Homo sapiens: one gene and its partners. Each later gene encodes a partner of the first gene's protein in a complex. Each region holds a gene or a part of one and is shown in the gene's direction. Other genes may lie near its edges. The genes, in order: DPM2, PIGQ, PIGP and DPM3.

What was found.
Region 2: DPM2 (region 1) and PIGQ share a complex: the UniProt entries of both Homo sapiens proteins name them as parts of the glycosylphosphatidylinositol-N-acetylglucosaminyltransferase (GPI-GnT) complex.
Region 3: DPM2 (region 1) and PIGP share a complex: the UniProt entries of both Homo sapiens proteins name them as parts of the glycosylphosphatidylinositol-N-acetylglucosaminyltransferase (GPI-GnT) complex.
Region 4: DPM2 (region 1) and DPM3 share a complex: the UniProt entries of both Homo sapiens proteins name them as parts of the dolichol-phosphate mannose (DPM) synthase complex.

The regions. Positions count from the first base shown.
Region 1 is NC_000009.12:127,934,855-127,942,691, reverse strand, and holds DPM2 (dolichol phosphate-mannose biosynthesis regulatory protein), read left to right. Parts: upstream 1-4,837; 5' UTR 4,838-4,871; coding exon 4,872-4,874; intron 4,875-5,168; coding exon 5,169-5,258; intron 5,259-5,381; coding exon of another isoform or gene 5,382-5,477; exon of another isoform or gene 5,478-5,875; intron 5,876-5,913; exon of another isoform or gene 5,914-6,036; coding exon 6,037-6,139; intron 6,140-6,911; coding exon 6,912-6,970; 3' UTR 6,971-7,593; downstream 7,594-7,837. UniProt on the Homo sapiens protein: Regulates the biosynthesis of dolichol phosphate-mannose. Regulatory subunit of the dolichol-phosphate mannose (DPM) synthase complex; essential for the ER localization and stable expression of DPM1.
Region 2 is NC_000016.10:565,390-572,975, forward strand, and holds the start of PIGQ (phosphatidylinositol N-acetylglucosaminyltransferase subunit Q), read left to right. Parts: upstream 1-4,578; 5' UTR 4,579-4,707; intron 4,708-7,586. Other genes in the region: NHLRC4 (NHL-repeat-containing protein 4), read left to right, coding at 2,659-3,030. UniProt on the Homo sapiens protein: Part of the glycosylphosphatidylinositol-N-acetylglucosaminyltransferase (GPI-GnT) complex that catalyzes the transfer of N-acetylglucosamine from UDP-N-acetylglucosamine to phosphatidylinositol and participates in the first step of GPI biosynthesis.
Region 3 is NC_000021.9:37,064,855-37,070,089, reverse strand, and holds the end of PIGP (phosphatidylinositol N-acetylglucosaminyltransferase subunit P), read left to right. Parts: intron 1-465; coding exon 466-538; intron 539-2,709; coding exon 2,710-2,828; intron 2,829-4,377; coding exon 4,378-4,508; 3' UTR 4,509-4,716; downstream 4,717-5,235. UniProt on the Homo sapiens protein: Part of the glycosylphosphatidylinositol-N-acetylglucosaminyltransferase (GPI-GnT) complex that catalyzes the transfer of N-acetylglucosamine from UDP-N-acetylglucosamine to phosphatidylinositol and participates in the first step of GPI biosynthesis.
Region 4 is NC_000001.11:155,139,373-155,145,082, reverse strand, and holds DPM3 (dolichol-phosphate mannosyltransferase subunit 3), read left to right. Parts: upstream 1-4,551; 5' UTR 4,552-4,592; intron 4,593-4,675; exon of another isoform or gene 4,676-4,752; coding exon of another isoform or gene 4,753-4,842; coding exon 4,843-5,121; 3' UTR 5,122-5,192; downstream 5,193-5,710. UniProt on the Homo sapiens protein: Stabilizer subunit of the dolichol-phosphate mannose (DPM) synthase complex; tethers catalytic subunit DPM1 to the endoplasmic reticulum.

The DNA.
Region 1 (7,837 bases):
CGGAATCCTGCCACCTGTGACTGTCTGACTGCTTAGTGCTTCAGCTGTCCCTTCCTTGTGTCCTGGGGGACCTGCTGGCGGCCTCTTCCTGGGAGCCATGACCTCAGACCCCACCCACACTCCAGATCGAGACCCCTGCCTCCCCCCGGCAAATGTCCTCCCGCTGCCTTGCAGCCTGCACTTTGCACATGCTCACCCCCAGCACAGTCCCACTGGCCCCTCACCTCCCCTTCCCTGAGCTCCTTCCCAAGGACTCCTGGTCACTGCCTGCTGTGCAGTCAGAGGCCCAGGGTCCAGCAGCCCGGCGGGAACGGGTGCTGCCTCTTCCTCCAGTTAGCTCCAGCTCAGGTCTGAGACCCGTGCTGAGAAAGGTCTGAGCACCGACCGTGCCCTCTGCCCAGGGCTGGGTCCTGAGCAGCTGGTTTTCCTGCAGGAAGGTTGGAGCAAGCAAAGTCCTTCTCTGCCCTCAGGGTCAGCTGCCCAGACTGGGGCGGATGCCAGAGAGGCAGGTGGGCTGTGGCTGGACTGGTCCGGAGCTGGCTTCCTTACCAGAAAAGCCTCAGCCTTCCTCTGGAAGCATCCCCCGTTCTGGGCAAGGGGGAAGGGCTCCTTTAAGGGGTGTGCTTTCCCAGTGGGGAGCAGTCTGGCCCTGCCCCCTACTAAAGCCTCTGCTCTCAGCACTTTCCCCCAAGTCCTTGTAACTTGCTTGAAGGTGGGTTCTGGCTGCCAGCCAGTCCCTGGACAAACTCTCCTGCCCCTTTTAAATTTCACTCATTTTGTATAAACCCAGCAGGCTGGTGTTTACTTAGCCCTGTAGCTTTTTTCATTTTTTCTTTCCGTCTTTCTTCTTGAGTTCACGGTTCAATATTGCCTCCTCGCCCTGGTGAGGGGAGGTGCTGCTTTTCTGCCCCACCTGCCGGCTGGTTCCAGCAGCGCTGGGGCCCAGCTGGGGGGCCGGGATGGGGGCTTCTCTCTCTGGGAGGGGTGCAGGTGCCCTCCCCAGGCTGGGAGGGTTCCTTCCCTAGCTCCCCATCTGCCCCCGCTGGTGAGAGTTGGGCTTCTTGGTCTTGGAACTCCCTGGCATTGGGAACAGAGCATTTCCAGCATTTGTTGTTGTTTTACTCACCTAACCCTTAGAAAATGAATGTTAGAAGGTGCCTGCCGAGGCGGGACAGAGTGTTCGCTCGCGCTGGAGAAGGCTCTGCTCAGCCCTGAGAGTCCCTTCCTGCCCCACCGATACTGGCACTTTAAAAAGGAAGCTGACCGCACAGTGTCCAGACGAATTGGCCCCCAGAAGATGGGGAGTTCTGTCCTGCCCTTCTGTGTCTGCGTGACCTCACCCAGCCTAGGAGGGAGGTGCATTCAGGGTAGATTTGCCTCTCATTCAAAGTTCTGGGGCTTTGGGTGGAAAACAGCCAGCTTTGGCGCTGTTGGGGAGACTCCTCCAGACCAGGAACCCCAGAAGGAGACAGAGCCTGCCACATCCTCCCACGCCAGGCCCTGGGCCAGGGTGATTGGACTGAGAATTTGGCCACAACCAAATTGATGCTGGCTGGAACCAGAGGCCAGAAAGCCTGGCCTTGTCCCCATGTGGGAGCCCTGTCCTCAGCCCTCTTGTCCCCTTGAGCTCAGTGAATTCCCACCAGGTGCCCACAGCTCCTGGACTTCAAATTCTATATATTGAGAGAGTTGGAGAGTATATCAGAGATATTTTTGGAAAGGAGTTGGTCTATGCAATGTCAGTTTGGAATCTTCTTGAAAGTTTAATGTTTTTATTAGGAGATTTAAAGAAAATAAAGGTCTACAATATCTTTAGGTTTTTTTTTTTTCCTGTTTACCGCACAAACTGACCACATGGCATGTCTATCAGGATGGAGGGTGTCCATGTTCTCCTCTGTCTTTAGGGAGGTGATAAGGAGATGGGCGGAGGGGTGTTTTTTTCTTTGACTCCCCTCCTTTCTAACAGAATGTTGCCACCACTGCTTGAGTGGGCTGTGTTTGTTCCTCTGTCCCAGCTTCTGTTGTAGAAAATAACATTGTTAGGGGAACTCAGGCTAGTGTCAGCGTCTTGGTTTGGGGAGAAAAAATTAAATGTTTCGGTTTTTGTTTCTTTTGCTGTTTTGTTTTTACCTTGTTACTTTATCATATTGACTTTAGGGTCAAAGGCAACATCAGAAGAAGTCAGATATGTATAGTGACATTCCAGGGGTGGGGAAGGTGTAGGGATCCAGGGTTCTCCCGGTCTTGGCCACAGGCACAATCATCACCTTCATCGTTCCAGATTCCTGGGGAGAAAACTGAGAAGATCGTTACCTGCCAGCCTCATACGGAGCAAAAGCTCTGTCCTCAGGGCCAAGTTCTAACCACTGCTCTGTAGACCTTCTCTGCAATCAAGTGGCCTCTAAGGAGCATGCCTGAGGACAAATAACTGCGCCTCAGTTTCCTCACCTGCAGATGGGGTTATCAAATAACACGAGTGTGCAGCCTGACCTGTAGGAGGTGTGAGTGTGTTCCCAAACTAAAGCCCCAGGCTGCCATCATTTACAGGCTTGGCTTGCCCCGGGCCCCTCACCCCCGTTTCTGACCATCCCAAGTCTCTCTGGGACAGGCAAGTCACTCTGGTTCTTTAATAAGCTTGGAGGTGTTGGGAAGCTTCAGTGGTACTGGCCAGGCCAGGAGGAATCAGGCCACCAGGGCTCCATCTCTATCCTGGGATAGCATTCACCCCACTCCTCCTCAGGGCTGACCCCGACTCATGGCCCCTTTAAACCCTGAAGGCCGATTCTGCCCCTTCCTCTGTTATATGCACAACTGAGGAAGGAGGTAAAAGTGGGCTCCTAGGTGAGCCCAAAGTCTCCTGAGAGATAAGGGAAAAGAATTGGACTGTAGGTTTAAAAAAGTTGCTCTTGGCCGGGCACAGTGGCTCACGCCTATAATCCCAGCACTTTGGGAGGCTGAGGCAGGAGGCAGATCACCTGAAGTCACCCTGACCAACATGGAGAAACCCTATCTCTACTAAAAATAGAAAAATTAGCTGGGCGTGGTGGTGAGTGCCTGTAATCGCAGCTACTCAGGAGGCTGAGGTAGGAGAATCGCTTGAACCCAGGAGGTGGAGGTTGCAATGAGCCAAAATCGCGCCATTGCACTCCAGCCTGAGTGACAGAGCGAGACTCCGTCTCAAAAAAAAAAAAAAAAAAAAAAGTTGCTCTTGTCAGCTTTGGGAGGGCAGACTCCATAGTTGGAGATGGGCTTCCAACCAACCAAGGAGATAAATGCCAGAGGGAGCGAACCATGCCAGGCTCAAAGCACATCTCTCCCCAAACTCCCCAGGTGGGGACAGCAGGCCAAAGGCCTCCACATAACCCCTCAGGGAGGCCTGGAGTCCAGATGCTGTACTCCAGTATCTAAACAATCACTCAATCTTAAAGCTGACAGGTTCAAAGCTCTTACTTTGGGCCGAGCGCAGTGGCTTACGCCTGTAATCCAGGCACTTTCGGAGGCTGAGGTGGGTGGATCACCTGAGGTCAGGAGTTTGAGACCAACCTAGCCAACATGGTGAAAACCCATCTCTACTAAAAATACAAAAATTAGCTGGGCGTGTTGACACGTGCCTGTAATCCCAGCTACTCGGTAGGCTGAGGCAGAAGAATCGCTTGAACCCAGGAGGCAGAGGTTGCAGTGAGCTGAGATCATGCCACTGCACTCCAGCCTGGGTGACAGAGTGAGACTCCCGTCTTGGGAAAAAAAAAAAAAAACAAAAAAACCTCTTTCTTTGGGCCAAGCCTCCACTGAGTGCCAGGGATACAGCAGCAACCTCAGACCCTACCCTCGGGGCTGACAGGGCTGGATCAACAATTGCATCAGTGAATTAAAAGGCACAGGAGGCTGGGCACCGTGGCTCACGCCTGTAAACTTTTGGAGGCCGAGTTGGGAGGATCGCTTGAGCCCAGGAGTTCGACACCAGCCTGGATAACATAGAACTCCGTCTCAAAAACAAACAAACAAACAAAAAAAACGTTCCCGACTGGCTTCCCTGAGGAACGTGGCGTCCCAGTGAGACCGGATGGGTGAGGAGCAGCCGGCCTGTGAGTGGTGGGGGACCGCGTTCCTATCTCGGAGCTGAAGAAGCGTGGAAGATGATCTGGCCCAACATCTCTTTGTTCTCAGAGGAAGGGCCTTCCAAGACCGGGGAGGGGCCTGTGCGTGGGTCCCGGTCCGAAACGTGTCTGGGCTGCTGCGAGAGACAGTCGGTGAAGGAAGGGAGGGGACATCCGAAGGGTGGCCCGGGAGGCCGGGCGATGGTGAGGAGGGCGCCTCCTCTCCACCAAATCCTCCCCATCCATGCGGGCTAGGGACAGACCCTCCCCCGCCCACCCTAGGCTGGAAAGTGAACGTTCTCTGCACCTCTCCCACCTACAGACTAAGTAGGGCACCCGGTTTCCGTGTCGGCTTCACCACTGACTCGGAATGGGATCTACCTTTCTCTGAGCCTCACTTTTCCCATCTGAAAAATGGAACTTCCGATCCCGCACTCCCATCCCACTCTGGCCCCGGGACTCTGGGATACTTAGAGATTGGCTTTTGGTGGGGCGGCGACAGGACTGTGGCCATGAAGGCCAGGGAGTCTGGGTCCCCAACTCGGTCCCATTCCCTAGAGAGATTCGGGCAGCAACCGGCCCCACAATGCTCTTGAGAACTACACTTCGCCGATATGCAAAGAAGAGGAGGCGGTTCCTGCTCGTCTCCGACGAGGTGGGCCCGAGCAGGCCTGGGGACTACGACTCCCGGCGTGCTCCGCAGTCCAAAGCCGGAAGAGCGTGGACCCGGAACCGGATGTGGCTTGCGGCTCGGGTGGCTGAGCGCGCGGGGAAATGGTGAGATTGGCACCGTGTGCCGGAGATAGGGGCGTCTGGGGGTGGGGTCCCGGGTCTGCTCAGGAGCTGGGGCATGGGCACTTGGAACGGGGATTGCTCTCCCGCCCCCACTATTGTACGGACGACAACGCGGAGGCCTAGCATTCTCTCCCAGCCTAGAAACTGATCCCTAGTCAGCCCTCTACCATCTGTTGAATGGGAAGCTTAGACCGTGATCGGGCCGCGACGCCCCGCTTCCATTAGTGCGCCGAAATAGAGGGTCACTTCGTCAGCTGAGACCTCCCTTTTCTCCAGGCCACGGGGACAGACCAGGTGGTGGGACTCGGCCTCGTCGCCGTTAGCCTGATCATCTTCACCTACTACACCGCCTGGGTGATTCTCTTGGTATGTCATTCTCCCCGTCCGCTGCTCACCTTCCCCGAGCCCTGGCACCGCCAGAGCAACTACTATATAGGCTCTAGGCACGGCGCTGGCTTCATTGCCTGCCTCATCTCTTGAACTCTCCAGAACAACTCTATGAGGAAGATGCCAGTGGTACCGCATTTTATAGATGAGATAGCTGAGGCTAGGGGAGAAGGATCTGGCCCAAGATTGCATCCTTAGCCGCTACACTTATAACTCTGTTTCCGGCTTGCTTTGACTTTTGGGGGAGTTCTGTTCCTTCTGGGTTAGCCTGCTGACTCTTAGGCATGGCAAACGCCAGTGATATTTGTGAAGGCCTTTAGGATATTTTTTTCTTGTGGGAAAACTTGTTGGTTATTGCTTAAGAAGTGCAGTGTGTCTGGAAGTGCAGAACTTGGTATCCTTTAGAGAAAAAATATTAGTGAAGAAGCCCTGGAGGCCCAGGTTGGGAGTCAGTCGAGGATTCCTCAAGTACCATTTGCTAGGCTGTGAGGTGCCTTAGGGCAGGTCTCTTGTGCCCTGTTCTCTTGTCCCCACCACCAACCTATAGCAGGCACCAAAGCAAGTGCCCGGTAAATACCAATAAGAAATTAAGGAAAGAAACAAACCACGACACCCAAATGCCGTAATCTTAAAGAAAAGCAAATGCAGTCCCAGTCCTCTGAATGGGTCAGCCCCTTAGATGGAGGAGGTGGGACGTTTGGGCTTGGGGGCTCGGCAAGGCAAGCAAGACACACCAGAGCTCTTCCCTCGATGCCAGCCATTCATCGACAGTCAGCATGTCATCCACAAGTATTTCCTGCCCCGAGCCTATGCTGTCGCCATCCCACTGGCTGCAGGCCTCCTGCTGCTCCTGTTTGTGGGTAAGTCATCACCTCCTCCCCTTGACCCTGGGCAGGGTTTCGGGAAGACCCCACCTCTGAACATGCTTCCACACTTTGGCGGTGCTGGAAGCTGCTTGCCCCGAACTCACCCGTGGGGTTTTCCTGTTCATCCTTCGAGGCTGCCAGTCAGTAACCTCTGGGTTTCCTGGTGCCCCAGGCTTTTTGGACTCCAATGACCTGTCTACCTCTTTCCTGCCCCAACCCCATCATCACTCTGCTCACACCTCAGTCACCCTCTTGTCACCCTGGCTTCTAATTCCTGCACCTCTCTCTCTCATGGCTTCCTAGGGATGGGGACTGTGTCTCCATCATTACTGCACATCTAGAACAGGCTGTGGCACTGAGGCTGTGCTCAGAAAGTCATTTGGATGAGTCAGTCAACAGCCGGGTGCCTGGATGATGGGTGGATGGATGGGTGGGTGGGTGAGGTGTAGGAGGAGGTGGGTAGGTATGTAGGTGGACAGACAAGTGGTTGACCGGGTGATCGATAGATGGGTGGATCTTGTTCCCCTTGGAATCTGAAACACTAAATGCAGCATCTTGCTTGAGGCAGGCACTCAGTTGGTGTTTGTTGAGTGAATGTGAGTAGACATATGCCTTGACGAATGACTAGGGAGATAAGCAGGTTCCCTGGAGGATGGTTGGGTAGGTTCACAGCCCTGTGTGTGGGTGGCTCTGCTGTGTCATGCCCTGGCCTCCCAGCAGCCCTGAGCTTAGATCTTATGTGGCCTTTCTGGTCTGTGTATCCCAGGACTGTTCATCTCCTATGTGATGCTGAAGACCAAGAGAGTGACCAAGAAGGCTCAGTGAAGGTCCCGCAGGGATGAGGCTGCCAGCCCCTTCTCTGCTTCCCCTCCAGCACAGGGACCAAGTGGGGGAGCCTGCAGAACCTGTCCAGGCACAGTGGCTCCTCAAGCCTGCCTGTCCTGCAGAGTCCCCATGGCATGGAGCTTACACCTGACTGACTGGAGCCCCCTCCCCGACTCCCACTTCCAGAAGCTAGGAGGGAGGGATACCTGGAAGACTCCGGTCACCTCCTTCTTGCTCAGGGCCTAAAAGATGCTGGTCCTCCCAACCTCACTCTCAGACTCCCTGCCACCTTTTCCCCTGGGTTCTGCCGTCTTGCCTCACTTCCCCTCCTGTCACATGCTGACGTTGGACTTAGCAGGTTCTAAGGCCACATGTGTGACCTCTCTGACTTCTCTTCCTCCACCAAGGCAGCTTTCCTTACCCTGACACAGCCCCAGACCCCACAAAGCCTTCTGGACCTGGAAAGCCTGGGGAAGGACTGACAGACCCCAGGACCAGCCCTGGGGCTCAGGGCAGCCACCCCGGGCCGCTGACCGACTGACCTCTCCTCACGGAGGCCCAGCCCCAAAGCCCCAGGGCTGGCCCGTTTGGGACAGCTGACCAATAAACACTGATGGTGTGTTTGTCTCTGTGCCGTGTTTACCCAGGGTCGGGGCTGGAGCGGGCTGGGAGCGGTCTTGGGTCAGGAGATCCTGTACAGTAGGGGTGACTCGGGGGCCTTCTGCCCTGACCCTGTGCGCTGGGGATAAAGCAGGGACTGGGACAGATGTGCTTCCTACCCAATGGAGCTCACAGCTGGGAGTCATTGGAGGCCCTGGCACCCCTCTGCCATGCCTCCCCTGTGCCAGCTTGGCCGGGTTGGATTTA
Region 2 (7,586 bases), on another chromosome or scaffold:
ACCTGCCCCGCCTCCGCATGCATGTGGATAGACCCCCACGGGCCGTGGCCAACGCTTGTCCCTGGGGCCACACAGGGACACTGGAGGTCACAGTTATTTATTGATCACAATTGTGGACATTAAAACAGAAACTGTTCACACACGCCGTCTGTGCCTCCTTCCTTTGGGGCCCTAGTGTAGCCACCTGGACACCCCCCTAAGGAAGTGTCCTGGCCTGGGAGGCCTGGGTGGGCAGCAGTCCTGCTGGGCCTCTGTCTTCAGACTCGGCCCTCTCCTGTGGGCTGGGCCCTCCCCGCGGGGCTGGGGTCTGGGGGTGGGGCGGGACATCGGCGACGGGAGCTGAGCCAGGAGAGCCGTGTGGACTGGGCTGCTCGGCCTGTGTCTTGGTGTGTCGGGGGTGGAGAGGCGTGTGGACTGGGCTGCTCGGCCTGTGTCTTGGTGTGTCGGGGGTGGGCACGGACCCCTGAACATCCTCTAGCCTCTGAATCCAGCAAGGCCGCGCTCATATCAGCTCTCCTGCGGTTAAACGGTGGCCCCGGGGCTCTGTGGCTGGAGGCTGCTCACCCAGCGTGGGCTCTGCTGGCCCCTGCCAGCCCCTGCAGCCGTGATAGGTATCAGCCTTCACAGCTCACTGCCTCCCTCCCAGCAGGGCCTGGCTTGGCCCTCCCACGGGCAGGGGATGGGCAGACAGGGAGGGGCACCCGGGACCCCCACAGCAAATCACTTCTCTCCTGGGAGAGCTGGCCACACCCTCCACGCCCACCCTGGAATGGGCTCTGGAGCCCACATCGCCCCCCCAGGAGGAGAAGCAGTTCCTGCCTGCGTCCAGCCGGGCTGGGGCCAGTCCAAGCAGGCTGGCAGCGGCCCCATTAACTACCAGGGAGATAGCATCAGCCCCGACCCTGCCTCGGGGCAGCTAGAGCTGGGGTGCTGCCTGGCCAGGCGCGGAGTGCTGTGGGGACAGGTCCCAGCCGGGCCCCTCTACCCAGAGGCTTCCTGGAGGGGCTGCAGGGGGCTCTGGGCAGCCAGGAACTGTTCCCAAGTCCCGAGTCTGAGGGAGACTCCCTGTCCTCAGCCCCCGCCCCCCATATGTCCACTGCACCCCATATGTCCACTGCACCTCAGTTTCTCACCCCCACTGAGCAGACAGGTGAGCATGGCCTTGCTGGGGGCAACAGCACCCGTCTCCCAGGTGTGGAGACACGACCTCCTTCGCTGTCACCCGTGGGGAGCAGGACAGGCCTCATGGAGGGTGCCTCAGCCAGCAGGTCACCCGCCTGTGGTCCAGACCCAAGGACCCTGCTTGGGGGTGGCAGCCTGGGGCTGCCTTGCCACTTGGAGTAATGAACTTGCTGGTTGTGGGGGGACCATGGGGGACCCCTGGAGGGGGGTGGGCTGCATGGCATCTGGCCGTGTAGGGGACGTGGGAATAGTGTCCGGGCAGAGGGCGCAGCCTGCAACAAGGCGCGGAGGCAGGAACACCACAGCATGGGGAGTCCTCAGGGGACCTGGTTTTTCTTTCATAGAAGCTTCAGGGGCCAAGGCCGGAGACTGCACTCTCCCTCCTCCACCCGGCCCAGCTGCGTCCCTGCCAGTGGCTCCTCCCACTTCCTCCAGTTCTAGTTTCCAACAACAGAGGCTGCAGCCACCCAGCCCCGAAGCAGGGCCCAGCGAGACAGGGCCCAGGTAAGAGACCCCTCCCCCCGGCCTCTCTCGGTGGGGCAGGTGGAGGCCCTCGGAATAGGCTGCCTCGCCCCTAAGGGGTCAGAAGTCTCCCTGACCTAGGGGCTCGGGTAGAAGGGCTGTGTGTGGGTGACCGCCCCCCCGCCGTAGAAAGGGGTTCCACAGGCAGATGGATTTGAGAAATGTTGCTTATCTGTCTGAGGCCCATGAGCTCATCTGGGGCTCAGGGGAAAACCCACAGCGAGCTCCACGGGTCATGTGTCTCCCAGACTCAAGTCCCAGGCACCTAGACACTAGGGTGGCCGCTGGGCTTGGTGGCCAGGTAGACCCTCAGGACCAGGAGGACCCGGCCTCATAGGAAGAAACTGGAGGAGTGACTTTGCCATTCCCACACACAGTGGGGCCTTATTCTCTCTCTTGCAGCCCCAAGCGTGACCCAGCTGCAGAGAAGCTGAGACGGTGATTCGGACTGACTGGACTCTGGCCTCCAGGTGTCTGCACCTCACACTGGACCCACCTGGAGACTCCACGGGCTCCCGGCAGCTCCGGCTGCTTGGGTGGATCCGGGTGCCCGCAGGGGCTGTGGGAGGGCCCCGGGGCCTGCACTGCTCCCCCGATGGCCTGCTCTTCCTCACGGCCGGGGCTGCACCCTGTGTCCACGTGCTAGATCTGGAGGGACGCCCCATCTGCCTCCTGCCCTGCCGCACTCCGGGGAGCGGGGCCTTCGTTCCAGAGGACGTGGCTGTGACAGCGTCAGGGCTTGTGGTGGTCAGCGATCCCATCCATGGGGCTGTCCATGCACTCCAGCACACAGCCCGGGACCCCGGGGGCCACTGGGTGACAGTGGGCACCTTCCTGTCTCCCCGAGGGCTGGCTGTGGATGCCCTCAACCGCCTCCTGGTGACGGACTACTTGCCTGGGGCTGTGCACAGCTTCTCGTTGGGTCCTGCTTGGGAGCCCCTGGCCCCAGCCTCCATGCTGGGTCTGGAGGGCCCCTGCTGGGTGGGCCCAGGGCCTGATGGGGGCCTTGCTGTGAGTGAGGAGTTTGGGGATGTGAGGCTGTTTGGCAGTGCCCGCCAACCCCTGGGCTCCCTGGGGGGCTGGACGGGGCACACTTTCGGCTGCCCAGCGGGCATCTGCTCCAACTCAGAGGGCAATGTTATTGTGGCAGACGAGCAGAGGCGCCAGGTGACCCTGTTTCCCCGGGCTGGGCCACCCATCTGCCTGGTGTCAGAGGGGCTTGGGCAGCCCTTGGGAGTGGCCTGTGCACCCCAGGGCCAGCTCCTGGTGGCTGATGCCAAGGACAACTCCATCAAGGTGTACCAGGGCCTCAAGGAGCTGGCCTGACCTGAGGCTGGGTTGGAGCAGCCCTCCTGTGCCTGAGGCCAGCTCCCAGGCCCTTGGATCACCGCGGGAGGAACCCTCAGGATGGGTGGAGCCTCCAGGCTATGGGCATTGCCTGCCTGATGCCAGCACCACCTGGGCTGGGCCCTGGGCTTGGCTCGAGTTCTCCTGCTGGTGAGGCTCCGGATCTCAGGAGCAGCCCTGAGTCTGCTTCCCAGGCTGCCCCTGCCAGGCCTGCAGCCTCCCCAGCCAGGGCTGCTCTCTGCTGTCCCCATTCAGTGCCCTGGCCCCTGCATTCATGCCCCCCACACCCCCTCAGGCCCTGTGCCTGGACTTTGGGGCTGGCAGCTGAAGCCTTGAGATCCTGGGCCAGCTGCCGGCACACAGCTAGGCAGACTCTCCCACCAGGTGCCCCTGCCCAGGCCTCCTAATCGGGGGCAGACAGGCAGGGAGGGTGTGGCTGGGCTGGGCTGGGCGGGGCGGCCTGGGGCAGGGGTGTGGCCCCTAAATGTCCCCAACCTCAGAGGGACCTAGAGTCCTGAGCCTCCAGTAGCTTCTCTGGGCCTGGCAGAGGTAAGGGGGAGGCAACCCTGGAGTGTCTGGAGGCCCATGGCTGGCTGAACCCTGGATGCCTTTTCTTCCGCGTCCCCATGAATGAAAGCTGTCTGGGCCTTCATTCTGCAGACAGGGACAAACAGCTCCATGCTGTTTGTCCTCCCAGTGCAGCCGTGCTGGGAGGGTCTGGGGGAGCTTCCTACAAGGAGAGACTCCTGCTGCTTTGGAAAACTGAGAAAAAATAGGGGTCTAACCCTCTCCTCCCATTTTACAAGTGGGGAAATGAGGCGTGAAAGGAGAGGCGTCTGGGTTACTCCGTGGGTCTGGGGTCCAGGGAAGGGCCTGTATGGGGGAGGGAGCTGGGAGGGGACGGTGTCTGGCTCTACCCCTGTGGGGTGGGGAGGTGGGGCTCCCCTGTATCACAGGACATCCCCCCTGAGAGGTCCCTCATATGTCTGGGTCCTGTGGGTGGGGGACTAACTGCGCAATGTAGTTAGGTGCTCAATAAACGGAGTTGCCGCTGAGGTCTGGGCTGGGGTCTTGTTCCTGGGATCGGGAGGGGCTGGACGCCTGTGTGTTCTCTCCTGACGATCGCTGGCGGCAGCCTCTGGGCTGGTCCTACCAGGGCTCAAAATTCCCGGCACCACTGGCCTTGGGGATCTGGGGGCGGCCCCTCTGCAGACAACAGAGTGACGGGGGCGGGACCGGGCTGGGGCTGGGGCCTTCCTGGAATCCCGCAGGGCCTGGGGACCTGTTCACTTGGGGAGGCTGGGAGCCAGGCGGGGTCCGGGTTCCACGAAGGCCAGGTCCAGTCAGTTTCTCAGGTGAGGAAACCGAGCTGACGCGGGGCTGGCGGCCCGGAGGCAGGCTCGGGAGGTCCGGGCCTGGGGACTGGGCGGGCACGCTGCGCCGCGGAACGCTCGGGTCGGGCGGGCGGGCGGGCAGCCCGGGCGCCTTTGGGGGCCGGACCGTCGCGCGGCAACGCGCGGAGCCGGCGGAAGTGGGGCTCGGGTCCCGCGGCGGGGCTGGAGGCAGCGAGCGCCGTCGTCTGCCCGGGCCCGCCCATCGGGGTCCCCAACCCCATCCGGACCCCGCCGCCCGAGCGCGCGGCCCCGGAAGCACCCGGTGAGCAGGGGGGGTGGGCGGCGCGCGGCGGGACCTCGGGCAGCGCCCCTGCGGCTCCGGGCCTGGGCTGGGGGCTCCGCACTCCCGCCCGCGGCGCCGCTGCTTTCTCCTCCCAGAAGTGGGGCCGCCCCCGGGCCCGCGCCGACCTGGGCCCCTGTGGACCCTGTGCAAGGGCGGTCGGCGGCCCGGGCCTGGCTGTGGGCCCTTCGCAGTTGTCCCGGTTTGCAGGAAAGGGCAAAAAACGGAATCGTAGGCTCTTCCCAAATGAGAGGGGAAGGCCCTGCTTGAGGAAGGCAAGCAAGTTTGTTTGTTTGTTTGTTTTGAGACGGGGTCTCACCATGTTGCCCAGGCTGAACTCGTGTTTGTTTTTCATTATTTATTTATTTTGAGAGGGAGTCTCGCTCTGTCGCCCAGGCTGGAGTGCAATGGCGCGATCTCGGGTCACTGCAACCGCTGCCTCCCGGGTTCCAGCGATTCTCCTGCCTCAGCCTCCCCAGTAGCTGGGATTACAGGTGCCCACCACCACGCCCGGCTAATTTCTGTATTTTTAGTAGAGACTTGGTTTCACCCCCATCGAGGCTGGTCTTAAGCTCCTGACCTCAAGTGATCCGCCCGCCTCGGCCTCCCAAAGTGCTGGGATTACAGGCGTGAGCCACCGCGCCAGGTTGGTGTTTATTTTTCAAACAAGGCGCTGGGAAACGCAAATTCTCCAGAGCTCTTGTGGAGCGGTGGCAGGGAGGGGCGGCTCAGCCAGAGATGGCCCTGGCCCGTCCTAACTGGGCTGGGGTGCCCCCATTCCCTCATTCACGGGGAGGAGAGGGAAGTCTTAGTCTTACTACTTTATATGGTCGACCTCCCTACCTGCCTGGTCTGGGAATGGCTTCTCAAGAGCACTCGGGCTCATTCTTAGCAGAGGAAGCTCTTCTGGCTAGCCTGGCGCCCGTGTGTGTGTGTGTGTGTGTGTGTGTGTGTGTGTGTGTGTGTGTGTGTGTGTGTGTGTGTGTGTGTGTGTCTGGCTAGCCTGGTGCCCGTGTGTGTGTGTGTGTGTCTGGCTAGCCTGGCACCCGTGGCTAGCCTGGCGCCCGTGTGTGTGTGTGTGTGTGTCTGGCTAGCCTGTGTGTGTCTGGTTAGCCTGTGTGTGTGTGTGTGTGTCTGGCTAGCCTGTGTGTGTGTGTGTGGCTAGCCTGGCGCCCGTGTGTGTGTGTGTGTCTGGCTAGCCTGGCAACCATGGCTAGCCTGGTGCCCGTGTGTGTGTGTGTGTCTGGCTAGCCTGGGACCCGTGGCTAGCCTGGTGCCCGTGTGTGTGTGTCTGGCTAGCCTGTGTGTGTCTGGTTAGCCTGTGTGTGTGTGTGTGTGTTTGTGTCTGGCTAGCCTGTGTGTGTCTGGTTAGCCTGTGTGTGTGTGTGTGTGTGTGTGTGTGTGTGTCTGGCTAGCCTGGCGCCTGTGTGTGTGTGTGTCTGGCTAGCCTGGTGCCCGTGTGTGTGTGTGTGTGTGTGTGTGGCTAGCCTGGCGCCCGTGTGTGTGTGTGTGTGTGTGTGTTTCCTCAGTCTTTAAAGATGCTCACGTTGCTTTCTCCCGTCCCATACCTCCTCTGCTATCGATCGCTTCTCTTTCATCTTCCTCTGGCTGTGTGATCCCAGCAGCTGCTAGTGCAGGCTTCTTTGTGCCGCCGACCGTCCCAGAGGCTGAGGTGGGAGTGTGATGGGCGTTTGCCCCACAGTACGTTGAGTTTTCTCTCACTACTCGACAGAGAAGAGTAGCTTCTGCCCTCCCATCTCCTTCGGTAGACACAAGGCACTTTTTTTTTTTAAGGTAAACTTTGTAGATGAAGCACAAAGAATACACACAAAGAAAGCGCACAGATCGTGAGCACGTAGCTCGGTGAATTTACCCAAAGTGAGCCCACCGCAGAACCAGCTCCCCCTAGAACATCTGTTTACTGTTAGACCCATTGTGTTTCTTTTCCGACGATATCTGTGGGCAGTTTTCCTTAGTCCCTGTGAAAGCTCTTCCCCAGCAGGGCGTGATGGGTCCCTGGGCTGAGCTGGTGTGAAAGGTGGGCTGTACTGGGTGGTCCCCTATGGTGGTCACACAGCCAGACACGCTGGGCCCCTTGCAGGCAGAATCACTTTGTCCCTCTCACGATGTCCTTGGTGCCTCACGTCAGCTGGCCTCCAGGCATCCACCCGCCGCCTGCCCTCTCTGACCACTGAGGAAATGGGCATTTGAGGAGTTCTGCAGCCTGACCCAGAAGGTCCCTTTTCAGCTAGAACCCACCGCCTTGAGTGACTGGATCCTCCAGCCCCAGTGCGGGCTGCCTGCAGGGGAGGAGAGCAGCTGCACCAGGGGCCTCTTAAGCCCCAGGCATTTCCGTGTGAGGCCTCTTCCAGAGCCCCTCCAAGCTTCGGGAGAGGACTTACAGGTCACACCACCCCGACGTGTGCATCCTGCTCTGTTCCCTCGTCCCTAAGGATGTGGTGGGCTCTGAGACCTCCAGGCATCCTGGTCTGTTCCCTCATCCCTAAGGGCGTGGTGGGCTCTGAGACCTCCAGGCATCCCACTCTGTTCCCTCGTCCCTAAGGGCGTGGTGGGCACTGGGACCTCCAGGCGTCCCGCTCTGTTCCCTCGTCCCTAAGGATGTGGTGGGCACTGGGACCTCCAGGCGTCCCGCTCTGTTCCCTCGTCCCTAAGGATGTGGTGGGCACTGCGACCTCCAGGCGTCCCGCTCTGTTCCCTCGTCCCTAAGGGCGTGGTGGGCGCTGGGACCTCCAGACCCAGGCTCAGGCCAAGCTATGTCCCTCCCTCGAGTGTGGCTCCAGCGTGGGGGGTCTCTGCTCAGGGTGGCCGCTCCACTCTTCGTGCAGGCGAGATGGGGCTTT
Region 3 (5,235 bases), on another chromosome or scaffold:
GAGATTTCGGATTGAGGGAAATAACATTGTACTCTGGGAGATAGGGCAGAAGCTCAGTATGTGGTGGATGAGAACTAGGGTAGGTAAATTTCCCTTTGAGCAATTAAATGTCTATAATTACTTCAACCTTGTGGGGATGAAGTATTGAACACTTACTGTACCTAAAGCAAACTGCTAGGTAATAAGGATTACAACAATTGCTAAGCCATGATTTGTATCCTTGAATTGCTTAAAATATAATGTGAGTTAAGATATTAAAAAAAAAGACTAATACAGTAATTATAAGTATTATAAGAATTGTGCAAACGAGCTAGAAGAACTGAAAGGAGGAAAAAATCATTTCTGAGTTAATCAGGGACACTTCAAAAGAGCTTTTCTGTTTTATCTGAATCTTAATAGATTGATAGATTAGATGTATGTCTTACTGACTTCTCTTCCTCTTTTTTTTCTTTTTCTTTTCTACAGTACTTTACCTCGTGTGGGCCTTTATTCCTGAATCTTGGCTAAACTCTTTAGGTTTAACCTATTGGCCTCAAAAGTAAGTTTAATATATTTCTTAAATGAGGATATAATTAATGCTGTTTTGAGGAGTCATATCATTTCTTAAACCTACCCAAATCTTAAATATTTGTTCTCTTAAAATTCATGAATAGCCATATAGAAATTGAAAGCTTTTTAAAGATCGCTATTGATACATCTCTAATTAAAGATGGTAGCATGAACACACATGTTTATCTCCATCCATTTCCTCCAAAAATCTTGTTAAAATGACCCTACAGGAAAAAAAAAAAAAACTGAAGATACAAACCACAGAAACAATAGTATAGCAGAAAAGAGATATCAACCACATTTTGGAAAGTGGATTGTGATAGGTGAGAGGTAACTGCCTTTGTTTCTGTGATTTTCACGTTGCTGAAGTAGGGAAGCCAGCAAGAATATTTGTGCCTTAGAACTCCAGAATAGCTCAGACATTGGGGTACCAGGTAGCTCTTTAATTCTGGGTTGAACTGAAAACATGTTTAAAGACCATATGAAGTCTTCAGCCTTCAAATCTCCCTCAGCCCTCAAAGCTGGGAGGCCTGCCCTGCCCTCCCCTGCAGAAAACAGGAGTTTTACTCTCTGGCAAGGTTAAGTAAGAGTCTCTAGCATGGGGGCCACTAAGTCTGAGTGTGGGAATGCGGCATCTTACTGAAAACAGGGAAGTAAGTGAAAATCTACATGGCTTAATGAGAAGATTTACCTCCTGCTCCATCTTCCCTCTTGGGGCTTCGAGGCTTATATCACCCTACTGCTCACAGAAAAAGATAGATAGTTCTTTCCTGAGGAAGCTGACCAGCCCGAGAGAAAGGATCTATAATTTCTGACATTTAGAGGACCCCAGTGAAGTGGCCAAGTCTCTCAGAGTGAGGCTCACCAGTTGACCATCCCTGCCCACATACACATAGTGCTTCCAACTCACTTGTTAGCACTTCATTTTTAAATATGAATGGACTACTCTAAGTTACCAGACATTAAAAGAAAGCCTCTAGCATGAAATGAAAAAGCAGAAAATTAAAGGGAATTTGAAGGAAATAGAGATAATGCAGGAAACAGAAAAAAAAATTTAAATAACATAAAATTCTCAGAGGTAAGAAACAATTATAACTATGAAACAAGAACAGAATGCTATGCAAACAGGAAATTACTGTATTTGGAAATTGTAAACATGATAACCAAAATTAAAATTTTAATTGAAAGACTGGAAAATAAAACAAAGGTAATCTCTAGAAGTTAGAACAAAAAAAAATGAAAATATAAGAAAGTATAATCGTTAAAAATTCAAACTATTAGAAGTTCCAGAAAGAGAAAATAATAGAGAACAAATCATTTAAAAAAAAAAAAACATCTGGCCAACATCTCAAGACCCCATTTCTACAAAAAAATTAAAAATTAGCCAGGTGTGGTGGTGTGTGCCTATAGTCCCAGCTACTTGCAGGGCTGAAGTGAGCTCAGCAGATTGAGGCTAGTGATCTGTGATCATGCCGTTGCACTCCAGCCTGGGTGACAGAGGGAAATGCTTTCTCAAAAAGAAAAAAAAAACACTCAATGAAAAATAGCACTCCATGTACATAATGATACTGAGAGGCATAATAGAGTCCTATCAGAGAATTTGAGGCTCTGGTATTGGTGGATTCCTGGGAAACCAAGTGAACAGACAAAAAGATGTAATTATTCCAGAAAAAAAAAAGTTGTACAAGAAAATATATAATAATAATGTACTAAGATCCTCAGTTGCAAAATTGTTTATGTAGGTACAATTATTTCTAAAACCTGCTGCTATAATGAGAAATTGCAATGTAAGTATAGAAGAGGATAGGAGGAGGTTAATTCCTTATCTCCATATTAGGAAGCCTAGAGAAAATGTCTGTAATGGAAAAAAATGAGGAAATAGTAATATGAGCATGTTTTGTAGCAATGAGGAGGTAAGTACCAGAAGACAGCTCAAGTGCTCAAAGCATTTCTTTTTGGAGAGTGAGACCCCAGGGTTGGGATGGTGGGATAGAGGACTGCAGTTTTTCACTGTAAGCCTTGTGGAACTATTTGTCTCTTATGTACACATATTACTTTATAAAATTTAAATTTAAAAAACATGTTGGCTTTGTGACCGACTCTTGAGAATTACAACTTTTTTAAAGTGTCTATTATGTACTTTAATATTCTCTTTGGCAGATATTGGGCAGTTGCATTACCTGTCTACCTCCTTATTGCTATAGTAATTGGCTACGTGCTCTTGTTTGGGATTAACATGATGAGTACCTCTCCACTCGACTCCATCCATACAATCACAGGTAACTTTATATAAAAGGAAAGTGCTGGGGCAATGAAAGAGTGGAGTATTAGCACTTTTACCCAGAAAAGCAACAAAGAACAGGCTGCAAAACCCATGTTGGTGGTGCGCGTCTGTAATCCCAGCTACTTGGGAGGCTGAGGCAGGAGAATCACTTGAACCCAGGAGGCAGAGGTTGCAGTGAGCCAAGATCCCACCACTGTACTCCAGCTTGGGTGACAAGAGTGAAACTCCATCCTAAAAGAAAACACACACACACACACACACACACACACACACACACACACACACGGACAGTAAAAAGAAGCTACTAAGAGAAATAAATACAAACTTATATAAAAGGAAATATTTGCATGAAGGAATTAAGTTCTGATGAATACACACTAGCTATATTCATGGAGGAAATAAATTATAATTAATTATAGCACTGGTTAGCAGGTGTATGTTCCCATAAAAACCACAAGTATATGCTATATGTGTCTATAATATGTTCCCATTAACTTTGCCTGAGAGAAGCTTATCCTGAACAGACACCGTTGATCAAGGGATAGTAAATAGTACATGCAGACCTTGTTCAGAAAAAGGACTTTGGGGGTGTGTATCCTCCTCAGGATCATTGTGTACTCCTTATTCCAATTAAGTGGATAAAAGAGCCACAACACGTTCGTCTGGTTTTATTTTTTTAAAGTTCTTTCAAGTCTAAAGATGAAAATAAATCAGACTCCTGAGCTTGCTTAAATTCTAGAAAGTAAAGTATTTTTTAAGTTCCCTGGTATGATTTTTCAACTTTTCAAAACCTTTATATATTAGCCTCTACAATGTATTTTGAAAATCAATTCTATTATTTTTAAGTGTCTTTCTAATACACTGCATTCCATGCATTCTTGATTGGAATTGGCAGCAAATAGGTAATTTGTGCAAAGAGGGGAAATTGTTAAGATTGCATGAATATTTATACCAAATGATTTAATAGTTTTGCCATGTTGATTTAAATACATTTTCAAGGCCTGGATATAATTCTGTTCCCGTGAGAAATGTGCAAATGAGACTTTAATCATCATTGTATGGTTGATTAAAATATTGATTTCTTTCCAAGTTAGAGATGAAAAAAGTACTTTACTGATGTTTTTATTTTTTTATTTTTATTTATTTATTTATTTATTTTTTATTTTTTATTTTTGAGATGGAGTCTCGCTCTGTCACCCAGGCTGGAGTGCAATGGCGCAATCTCGGCTCACTGCAGGCTCCGCCCCCTGGGTTCACGCTGTTCTCCTGCCTCAGCCTCCCGAGTAGGTGGGACTACAGGCGCCCGCCACCTCACCAGGCTAATTTTGTGTGTTTGTGTTTTTAGTAGAGACAGGGATGTTTTTATTTTAATTGGGACATTTCTTCTAAAGAGAGGATTTAAGTAATCATCTAATTATGTTAAACATGATGTTTGTCACTATCCAAACGTCAGCCTAGTAAACTATGTGGTGGGTCTCCATCAGACACAGAGACTGTAGAAGAAATTGCTTAGGTAAACAGAGCTTTTTGGTCTTTTCTTACAGATAACTATGCAAAAAATCAACAGCAGAAGAAATACCAAGAGGAGGCCATTCCAGCCTTAAGAGATATTTCTATTAGTGAAGTAAACCAAATGTTCTTTCTTGCAGCCAAAGAACTTTACACCAAAAACTGAACTGTGTGTAACCATAGTAACACCAAGCACGTATTTATTTATAAGTTTTTGCCATTATAATTTTGACCATAAATTAATTTGACCATCTCTCTTATTAATAGAGAAGTAAAAAATGTAAGTTGACCTTCTCTTAGATTATGTTCAATGAATATTGTAAATGTTCAAGTATTGTTAATGAATAGAATAAATACAATATTGCATTCCCATATAGCAGACTTAAAAAAAAAAATCAATGTCAGTATAATCAAGAAGTTCCTCCAGAGAGGCATTTATATTGTAATTTGCAAAGGGCAATGATGTCCTTCCTCCTGTTTGTCCTGAGGGGCCCAGAATTCAAACCCTTAGTTTTTGGGAAGGGTACAGTTAGTACTTGTGCCATCAGATTCATGTCTAAGACACAAATATTTGTTGAGTACTCACTGTGTACCAGGTATTTTTCTAGGCACTGAGGATGAAGTAATGGTAAGATTCTCTCTCAAAGAGCTTATAGTTTTAGAAGCAGGGTGAGGCAACTAAGCAAATAAACAAGGAAATATAATTTGATGAGTGCTATGCAAAGAATTAAGATAATGTATTCTAGAATGCAAAGGGATGACTAGTTCACATTGGGTGGTCAAGGAAGGCCTCTCAGAGAGAGGCTGTTGGGATCTAAGTATAAAGCAGGTGAGGCAAAGACCATAAGGTGGGAAGGAACTTGGTTTGTCCTAAGAACAGAGAGAAGACTGGC
Region 4 (5,710 bases), on another chromosome or scaffold:
GCAACACAGTAGAATGAAAGTGCTAAGAATATAGTTTTGGGTCCAATGAAACAGCTTTGCTGTTTACTATCTGCACAACCTTGAGCTAGTTACTTACCTTTTGCCCTCTCTGTGTCATGGTTTCCTCATTCATACATGGGAATAGAAAAGTACCTACTTCATTCGGCTGGGTGCGGTGGCTCACGCCTGTAATCCCAGCACTTTGGGAGGCCGAGGCGGGCGAATTGCCTGAGGTCAGGAGTTTGAGACCAGCCTGGCCAGAGTGGTGAAACCCCATCTCTATTAAAAATACAAAAATTAGCTGAGCATGGTGGCAGGTGCCTATAATCCCAGCTACTCGGGAAACTGAGGCAGGAGAATCGCTTGAACCCGGGAGGCAGAGGTTGCAGCGAGCTGAGATTGTACCACTGCACTCCAGCCTGGGCGACAGAGCAAGGCTCTGTCTCAAAAAAAAAAACAAAACCCAAAAAACAGAAATACTTTATAATTTATTATCTATCCTTATATGTGGTGGTGTAAGCCCCTAAAATGTTCTGGGGAGTTTCAGGGCCAAGTCTACTGTGTATGAATAAAATGGACTTTCTGGATCTGCATCTGCAATGCTCGTGTCCAGCCCCTGTAAGTATACCAATATTTGAAAGTCATTGTGACCAGTGAGTCCTTGATTGAGAAACCAGAAAGATTTGGTGTGGAAATGGAAATGTGGCTAGGGCTTTGAAGGTCGTATAGCAGGTTTAAAAACATTTTTTTTTTTTTGAGACAGAGTCTCGCTCTGTCACCCAGGCTGGAGTGCAGTGGCACAGTCTCGGCTCACTGCAACCTCCGCCTCCCGGGTTCATGCCATTCTCCTGCCTCAGCCTCCCAAGTAGCTGGGACTACAGGCACCCGCCACCACGCCCGGCTAATTTTTTTTTTTTTTTTGTATTTTTAGTGGAGACGGGGTTTCACCGTGTTAGCCAGGATGATCTCGATCTCCTGACCTCGTGATCCACCCGTCTCCACCTCCCAAAGTGCTGGGATTACAGGCGTGAGCCACCGCACCCAGCCTAAAAAATGTTTTTCGCTAGGAGCGGTGGCTCACGCCTGTAATCCCAGCACTTTGGGAGGCCGAGGGGGCGAATCACCTGAGGTCTGGAGTTTGAGACCAGCCCGGCCAACAAGGTGAAACCCCAACTCTACTAAAAATACAAAAATTAGCCAGGCATGGTGGCAGGTGCCTGTAATCCCAGCTACTCGGGAGGCTGAGGCAGGAGAATTGCTTGAACCCGGGAGGCGGAGGTTGCAGTGAGCCAAGACCGTGTCATTTCACCCCAACCTCGGCGACAAGAGCAAAACTCCGGCTCAAAAAAAAAAAAAAAAAAAGTTTGGGCTGAGCGCGGTGGCTCACGCCTGTAATCCCAGCACTTTGGGAGTCCGAGGTGGGAGGATCACAAGCTCAGGAGTTCGAGACCAGCCTGACCAACATGGTGAAACCCTGTCTTTAATAAAAATACAAAGATTTGCTGGGTGTGGTGGTGCGTGCCTGTAGTCCCAGCTACTTGGGATGTTGAGGCAGGCTAATCGCTTGAACATGGGAGGCAGAGGTTGCAGTGAGCTGAGATCATGCCACTGTACTCTAGCCTGGGCCACAGAACGAGACTCTGTCTCAAAAAAAAAAAGAAAAGTTTTTATTTGTTTTAATTTTTACTTTAACAAAGGAATTTGTATAGTTTTAAAAGCCAACTAGTTCAACAAATATTTTTCGGGGTGGCGGGGCATTTTCAAGTGAAAACCGGGAAACCTGCTCAACAAATTCTGAAAGCTGTAACTTCGGTGGGCGCCGTGGCTTACGACTGCAATAGCAGCACTTTGTGGGGGCTGAGATGAATTGCTTGAGCCCAGGATTTTGAGACCAGCCTGGGCAACATAGGGAGACCCCGTCTACACACACACACACACACACACACACACACACACACACACACACACTAGATGGGCGTGGTGGTGGTGGCCCACTTCTGTAGTCCCTGCTACTCCAGAGTCTGAGGTGGGAGGATAGCTTGAGTCCAGGAGGTCGAGGCTGCAGTAAGCCATGTTTGCACCGCTGCTCTCCACCCTGGGCAACAGAGCAAGACCTTGTCTGAAAAAAAGAAAAAGAATAGAAAAAAAAAGAGCTGTAACTCTACAAGGCTTTTAATGAAAAATAACCATCCCCTGCTCCTCTTCTTTAACCCTTACATATACAACCTACATATACAACTACGCTCCAGTTTCTAGGCTGCTTCTTCTGGTACTTATCTGTACATTTCTTCAAGCAACACTCCCACCTAGGCCTCCCAAAGTTCTGGGATCACAGCTCCACTGTCCCCAGCTCCAATTTTTAGTTAAATCAATACTTAGTGTTTACATCGTTACGGCTGTGAAAATTTTCTTCACAGCTGAGCCATTTGTGTTTGTGCTAAGACTGTGAATCTGTAAAAACTGCTTTTGTTAATTAACATCCAGGACATACGGCTGAGAAACTTCATTTTCTAAAATCATAGTCACAAACTTTGCTATTTGAAATCAGTCAGTGCGAATGGAACATCCTACTCTTGCCAGAAGTTCTGAGCCACGTGGATTACTTTGGCCTCCCAAAGTGTTGGGATTACAGGCACGAGCCACTGTGCCCAGCCTAGATAGTGGGTTTTTGGACACTATATTCTATATTTATCTTGACTTTGTAATTTCCAAGTGGTCCCTCAGCTTGGACTTCTTGATCCCTTCACTTAAAGTTATGCTTACCTCGAACCGATCAAAACACTGTTTCATTTAAATTTTAGCTAGCCTATAGTATCAGCCACTTGGGAGGCTGAGGCAGGAGGATCACTTGAGCCCAGAAGTTTGAGCTTCGCCTGGGCAACATACCGAGACTTCAACTCTAAATAAATAAGTAAATAAATTTTAAAATATAAATTTTAAAGTCAAGCCTTTCCCATATCCTGTTGTATTAGTTCATTTTCACATTACTGATAAAGACATACCCGAAACTGCAAACAAAAAGAGGTTTAATTGGACTTACAGTTCCACATTGCTGGGGAGGCCTCAGAATCATGGCGGGAGACAAAGGCACTTCTTACATGGCGGTGGCAAGAGAAAAATGAGGAAGAAGCAAAAGCAGAAACCCCTGATGAACTCATCAGATCTTGTGAGACTTATTCACTATCATGAAAATAGCACGGGAAAGTCTGGCCCCCGTGATTCAATTACCTCCCCTTAGGTCCCTCGCACGTGGGAATTCTGGGAGATACACATCAACTTGAAATTTGGGTGGGGACACAGCCAAACCATATCATCTGAATGACCATATTTCTTCCTTTTTAATGAGTTGCCCCACAGTTCTTCTAGTGTGTGATCTCTCTGTTGTGGCAAGTTAATAAACCTAACTGTCAAACTACAGATGTGGTCTTTATAAGACAGGCTTATCAATTGTCTTTCCTTTCTTATATAACTCTTTGTTTCCTCTGAAGTTGATAATTGCCTAACCTTTTCTCTTACTTTGTTCTCTCTCTCTCTTTCTCTCTATACATAATAAATTCATCCCCAAAACTGTTCTAAAGAATTATACTCTTTCTTTCAATGCCTTCACCACTTCAGGTAATTCTTCTGGTCTTTCTTTTCTTTTCTTTTTTTTTGAAACCCAGACTCCTGGAGCCCTTCTTCCTCTGGCTCCAAGTTATATTGGTTGTTGTCCTTGTAAAAATATGACTACCTCTGTTCTAACAATAATCTCAAGCCTTCATGGTTAGTTGTCAATGCAACTGCTTCACTGACTCCTGCTTTCCCCCTCCACCTGAAAGGGGTCGAGTCTCTTGACATCTCTGTATCTCCAAAGTCTATCATGGTAATCAAGAAATGTTCTGGCCGGGCGCTGTGGCTCATGCCTGTAATCCTAGCACTTTGGAAGGCTGAGGTGGGCCAGTCACTTGAGGTCAGGAGTTTGAGACCAGCCTGGCCAACATAGTGAAATCCCCGTTCTCTGCTAAAAATAAAAAAATTAGCCCGGCGTGGTGGCGCGCGCCTGTAATCCCAGCTGCTCGGGAGACAGAGGTTGCAGTGAGCTGAGATCGAGCCACTGTACTCCAGCATGGGCAACAGAGCGAGACTTTGTCTCAAAAAAAAAAAAAAAAAAAAAAAAAAAAAAAAGGAGTTCTGTCCCGCCTAGGCACTATAGAGAGACCCTGTCAAGAATGGAAAGAAAGAAATCTTCGAATGAATGAACTAGTGAATGAAGGAATGGATTTCAGCGCTGGAGAATTGAGTTTAAGGGGAATGGTATTATATTCCCATCTTGTTGCAACATTTAAGGATGTCCTCAAGCCCCACGCCAGCCTGGAGCGTAGCCCAAGGTGGGAAAGCAGCGCCGAGGCCTCTCCAGACCCGGCCTGCTCCCCGTTTGCGGAGCACAGCCCACTGTACCCCCGCCTAGATTGAGGCGCTGGCCAGGAGTACACCAGGCGCCGCCATGTGAACTACAACTCCCAGAAGGCCGCGCGGAAGCGGAACGTGAACCAGGGAGGACTTCCGGACGCCAACATCCGGGCCGCGCGGGGAAGGGGAGACGTGGGGTAGAGGTAAGTGTAGGTTGAAGGCTGAATGGGGAGGGCGAGAGATGGGGAGTGGGTCTCAAATATAGAGGGGGTAGCAAGGTGGAAGGGGCCCTTCCACCTTTTGTGGGCACTCAAGTTCGGACCTCTGGGATCGGCGATTCCCCTCTGGCCAGGGCTGGTTTTAATGCTCTCCGTGGGCGGGCTTCGGTTGAGTTTGGTCCGCTTTTCCTTTCTGCTCCTCAGGGGAGCATTGCTTCCTTCTCTCGCAGTGACCATGACGAAATTAGCGCAGTGGCTTTGGGGACTAGCGATCCTGGGCTCCACCTGGGTGGCCCTGACCACGGGAGCCTTGGGCCTGGAGCTGCCCTTGTCCTGCCAGGAAGTCCTGTGGCCACTGCCCGCCTACTTGCTGGTGTCCGCCGGCTGCTATGCCCTGGGCACTGTGGGCTATCGTGTGGCCACTTTTCATGACTGCGAGGACGCCGCACGCGAGCTGCAGAGCCAGATACAGGAGGCCCGAGCCGACTTAGCCCGCAGGGGGCTGCGCTTCTGACAGCCTAACCCCATTCCTGTGCGGACAGCCCTTCCTCCCATTTCCCATTAAAGAGCCAGTTTATTTTCTAACTTCGTTTAGTTTGAGTATGGAAAACGGGTATTGGGGATTCTATGTACTAACGGTCGAGAAGTGAATGTGAAAGAACCACCTTCTTGAGGCCATCTCAGCCTTTATCTTTGCATCTTGCTGGTGTTCCCATTTTTGCTCCCAAGGAGGCAAAGACCCCTTCTCAATATTTCTCAGGATGGAAATGACATTTCACTTTCCTGGTCCTTTCAACCCTGTAGGAAGTACTTCTTTTTTTTTTTTTTTGAGACGGAGCCTTGCTCTGTCGTCCAGGCTGGAGTGCAGTGGCGTGATCTCGGCTCACTGCAAGCTCCGCCTCCCGGGTTCACGCCATTCTCCTGCCTCAGCCTCCTGAGTAGCTGGGACTACAGGCGCCTGCCACCACGCCTGGCTAATTTTTTGTATTTTTAGTAGAGTCGGGGTTTCACCGTGTTGGCCAGGATGGTCTGATCTCCTGACCTCGTAATCCGCCCGCCTCGGCCTCCCAAAGTGCTGGGATTACAGGTGTGAGTCACCGCGC